Linked DNA regions of Homo sapiens: region 1 is linked to region 2. Evidence: fine-mapped expression QTL. Tissue or cell type: aorta. Region 2 holds a variant in brackets; the other region holds the start of a gene. All regions are shown on one strand. Distances are from middle to middle.

Region 1 (2,765 bases), 200 kb after region 2:
GGCAAGGGGTAATACTCTGTTGTGAGGCACCACTTAGCTGTATGGAACTAACTGTCCCCATCAAATCTTACCTAACCAGAACACATCCTCAGAACAAAATTCTCCAAGTGTAACGTATTCAGGGCTAATTCATTAATTCTCCATTGTAGCCCACTGGACTCAATGCTCTGTGGTCACTAAATCAAAAGAGCATACATACTCAGGAAAAGAGAATTAAGAACTTTGCCTTTTTTAACTTCGAATGGATATAGAACATCAGAGATATTTATTTTTCCCTATTAAGTATTACCACCTTCTATTTACTGGGCAAAAATGCTTGTTTCCTGCACCTTTAAATCTAATTTGTGTTTTCCCCCCTACAAGAAAGATCATGAAGGTGGATTAGTACAGAGTTGTATGGACTTTTTCAGTATCTTTAATGCATTTGCTTCTGGAAAGAGAAGCGCTGCAGACACACGGTGGCAATTCCTGCTCAGGTGTAGTGCCATTCTTTTGTGTGACTCACAGCTAGAGAGAGAGCTGACATTCAATATATGTTTAACAATACTTTCCCACTACTGATTCCACTCAGGAGACTCACATTTTTATGCCTTTTCTAAAAACAAGGACACAAAAAAAGTCACTGTCTGAGGAGGCTCATTCTTTGTTCATCTTCACCTGACTGGCCACCTAACTACACAAAGCTTTTAAACTAATGAGGAGAATCCTTTGTTCTCTCTGGTTCCATTTAAAGGGAAAGTGGGTCGAAGGGCTTCCCCAGGGAGAGAGAAAGAAAAGCCCAGGAGCCAAACACAAGGGAGTAAGAGATTTCACTCCCACTACTATTCCCACCCTCCCAAAGAAGTTAATTAATTCTGTTTTAGGAATGGTTAAAAGGGGTGGGGGAGCACCAGGTAGCCCATTCTCTGAGACCAAAATCTCCTTCTCGAGTGTGGTTCGCACCAGCCTCTTGTCTCTGACACCACGGGGTGTGGGTGGGGGGCGTGGGGGGAGGGCAGGAGTACTGAGAACCTCTCTCCAGCCACGGACCACAGAGCCAGTACTGCATGCATTTAGGCTCCCCCAAAGGTGCGTCCCAGCCCAAGTCCCCAAGTTGGGTATTTAAATCTAAAAAGCACAATTAGCGCCATTCAAAGCTGCAAGTTACAGTACCTTCAGAAGTCTGACAGATGGAAGAAAGGCTGCGTGGCACAGCTTCCGGATGGTCCAGTTTAGGGGTCGAGGAGCATCAGCCTGATTCATGACCCCTTCCAAATTCCACCAGGAAAACAAGAAACTGAAAACCTGAGCAATGCCTAGAAAATAAACGGTCCCCCACGGCTCTGGCATCCCATGGTCATCTCCACACCTGCAAATTCCATTAGGGCAGAGGCTTCCTGGAACTTGGAAGACTAGTCAAGTAGCCTTGCCTGAGCCCCTGAACCTTCTTAAAACAGCCACCTCCCCTCTCTCTGCAGCCGTGCTCATGCATACCAAATGTGGCTGAATGGAGGCACACTGCCTGCTGCTTCGGGGAGGGGATGCACGATTTTGAAGAAGAGGGACAGCCTGCACAAAACAGCCTGTGGTCGGAGTCAAAGCAGCCTGCTCCAGAATGCGCGCTCCCTCTCCCGCTCTCCTCCCAGTAAACGCAGGTCAGGCGTTGGGGGGGAACCGGGGCCATTGCTTTGCTAGCTTGGTTTGGGGGGGAGCCAGGAGGATCGCAAAAGGGAACAAAAATGAAGCCAGAACGGGAAACTTGCACTTTCTTGCACAAAGCATCTTTGAGGGACTGAGAACTGGTACGGGGGGAGGGGTGAGGACACAGGGAGAGAAGGGGTGCCTCCGAATGATGAGATAAATGCTTCCCTTTTGATTTATGTGACATAATAAAGTGAGGCTATCATCAAATACATCTATAGTAAAAGAGATCTGTGTCGTGTTCTGAGGTTTTTATTAACCGTGATTGACAGTCTTCATCCTGATAATCGGTTGCATAGATGACAGACACTGAGACAGAAGCAAACTCAAACACACTGGGTTGTTCCTTTCATACAAAGCAGTTTAAACTCATGGGCATTTGGCTCACCTTTTAGAGATGGCAGTTTTTAAATGGGGGTTATCTCCTGGAAAGCCACTTGATACCGCTTCTCTGCAACACAAGTTTAACCCATAAAGTGCCACATGGGATGCTGTCTATAAAGAATGGATTTTCCTCAAGTGGGGTGTCCACCCCCATCATTTTCTAAGGAGGCTGTATGAAATAGTTGCTGAGTTGGAATGTATAGTCTTTAGGACTCCTGTGGTGAGAGAGAGAATTAAAGGACAGTTTTTCAATTTGAAGGTAGAAATTGGATAATTTCACATAGTAAGTTGGGACGGTGAGATGAGAAGGGAGTTCCTGACACAACCCCCCTTCGGCTCCCATGTACCCCCAGGCATCGGACCTCAGTGGGAGCAGTTGACCTGACAACTCCTATGGGGAGAATCCCCACATCCTTGGAGCATCGCCATCTTATTTATTTTTTCCTCTGTGACCATGCTGATTTTCCATTTCTAATTAACTTGAAGAGATTGGTAAATCCCAGCTCCATGACTATTATGCAGTCAGAGCTGAACTGGGAGTGGTGCAAGCAGATGTGATACACTGCTGTAATTCAGAACCGGGACAACACAGGCCCACCCCAGCATGAAATCAATACCTGACACACTGCGCTACAACACCATTTCACTCACAATGGTCTTGTGTCAAAAATTTAAGAAAGATATTGCAGAAAACTAGTCCA
Region 2 (2,765 bases):
CCAAATGGAGTGGACTATTGGGCCTATTATAAAAGATAGCGCCTATCCAGGGGCAATGAAGTGGAACCCATAAATTACCTGGTTTATTAATTTTTGTAAACATTTAGATGAACTAGTTAATAAAAACAAAAAAAGCCTAAAAAACCTGAAAGCAAATGTCGCTTAAAATAACTGTGTGTTCATCTTCATGGCGTTTTACACTTTTTAATACATGTTCATGTTCACGTTTTATACTTTTTAATACCTGTTCACAAAACTGCAATTTTGCAGGTTTTGTCCTATTTTGGGATGATGGGAGGATATATAGAGAGGATAAAATCCGTCAAGATTACAACAGAACACTAGATAGGATTACAAAATTTGCTTTGTAGCCTCTCCCATGGGGGTTCTTAAAATGTATTTAATTTTTTTAATAACAAATGAATTTATGTTAATTGTAGAAAAATACAAAAATAGAGAAATTACAAAGAAGAAAAAAAGTAACTATTTTACCAAGAATTGGATATAAAGTAATGCCATTAATACAAGGAGAAAACTGCCTAGATTCCTAAGGGTCATGTGTCAGAAAATCTTTGTATTTCCTATGAATTTTTCTTGCCAGTTGTCAAATGTGTTTCCTAAGAACTTGCTTTAGGCAAGACCCTGGAGAGCCAGTGAGTTACTCTGAAAGCTGTCCATTTGATTCCTATTAACTAGCTTATTCATCCAGCTTGGCCGAGTAATACTGGCAACACAAATAACACACACACACACACACACTCTCTCTCTCTCTCTCTCTCTCTCTATATATATATATATACACACACACACACATATATATATATACATATATATACACACACACATATATACATACACACACACATATATACATATATACACACATATATACATATATATATACACACACACACATATATATATACACACAATCTATCTATCTATTTATCTATCTATATATATATATCTTTGTGCTGTTTTCCTTTAGAACATTGGTTCTCAACTGAGGGCAATTTTGCTGTCTCCCGTCTAGGACATTTGGCAATGTCTGCAGACATTTTTGGTTGTTCCTTGTGGGTGAAATGGTGCTGCTGACATTTGGCTAGAGGCCAGAGATGCTGCTAAACATCATCTAATGCACAGAAAAGCCCCCACATACCCAACAAAGACTTATATGGCCCCAAATAGCAACAAGGCTGATATAATACCAATATTTATTTCCTTCCTTGATTCCTCTTTCCTCCCAAAATTATAGTCACACTGGTCATCTACTTCCATATACTATTTATTTTTTACTTACAATTATATTGTGAATATTTCTTCATATCATTATTCTTCAAAGCATGAATTTAATGCTGTACAACAGTTTATCATGTGACTTATTTAATACTCCTTACTGATGA[C/T]AATCAGTTCCATTTCCAGTATTTCAACATCATTAAATAATGTTGGTATGAACATTCTTGACCATAAATCTATTTTCATTTCTCTAATGATTTTCTTTGGATGGATTCCTAGAAGTACAATGACTGAGTCAAACCAAATGAATGTTTTTAAAGCTCTTCGTCTTGTTGCCAAATTGCTTTCACGATTAACAGTCTCTCTGGCAGCATATTAGAATACTCGTCAGGCCAGCTCGGTTTCTACCATATTTTTGCGCTAAGCTAAAATTTGACATGTTAACACTAATACGTAAGCCTTATAGTCCTGATATGATTTGTGAATGTTAAGTACTTTAATAACCATTCTCTAGCTGACTAATACAAGGTAGAAAGTTCAGGTGCTATACTCACCTTACCCCCAACAACCATCTAAGAACTCTTATTTTCAAGAAGTAATTTCTACAAGGTTACACAGATTTCAAGATGAAGGAGAAAGAAAAGGAGAAGGAGAAGATGATGATCGCTGAACCTAAGCCAGAAGCCAGCTTTCATTCTGCGCTCTTTCCACTGAACCGTACACAATTGCCATTTCATAACGTGAATTGCATGAACATGGATATGCACGGACTCACTTGAGTCAGTCAAGAGTTTTGGCTTTCACATTCTCCAGTACTTGGCTAACATGTATAGCCCTACCTGCCCCTTTCCAGCAGATGGTGCTGTTTTTCCAACATTTAAATGCTACACAGCAAATGATAACTTTTGATTGATTTGAGCCAGGTTGCTTAAGGGCGTTCAACGAAGTCTACTTTGCACATTGGTATTATTAAAATTGCTCAAACATAAAACCAATCTTTGCTCAGTATTGATGGAAACAATGTGTGTTCGAGAGTACTGATAACAAATAAATAATGAATCACCACCCTACCGCAATGATGTATTACACTAGACTTTTTTCCTGGAGACATAGAAGTAAATGTTTTAGGGAGGCTGTGGGAGTCAGAGGTGGGTCTTAAACAAGGTAGATATAAAAGATTATGAGTCATCATACAAATTCTGTGTTGCTTCTACAGTAAATATCATGGAACAAATGTTGGTAGAATATGGAAAAAAATATATATATATATCCTCCTGTCTATTCACAGAATATGGAATATATATATATATCTCCTCCTGTCTATTCACAGCTCCAATGCAGCTTTCTTACTTCCCACCAATTAAGTTTCTAATAACACCTATAGGCAATCTTTATATATATATGCTGGGGTATCAGCAGTGACTCATTTTCCAAAATAATTTGATATTAATATAGAAGAGGAAACACAATATCTCCTTTCAGCCAGCGCGGGAGAGATAAATTTCTCACTGTCAATACAGGTTAGTAGT

What was found. PIP is the estimated chance that this variant, and not a neighbour inherited with it, causes the effect.
Region 1: TRPM3 starts here. The variant in region 2 is fine-mapped to the expression of TRPM3 in aorta (GTEx, PIP 0.93).

The regions. Positions count from the first base shown.
Region 1 is chr9:71,120,026-71,122,790 of GRCh38, forward strand. TRPM3 (transient receptor potential cation channel subfamily M member 3) reads right to left here and starts at 1,596. Exons shown (of 26, transcript NM_001366145.2): 1 at 1,153-1,596. The coding sequence starts at 1,329. RefSeq lists an enhancer at 404-1,241.
Region 2 is chr9:70,923,046-70,925,810 of GRCh38, forward strand. The region is part of intron 1 of TRPM3 (transient receptor potential cation channel subfamily M member 3); the gene reads right to left. Among named protein-coding and RNA genes, the nearest start is that of MIR204, 110 kb to the left of the region's middle. The variant C/T (reference allele first, on the strand shown) is at 1,404.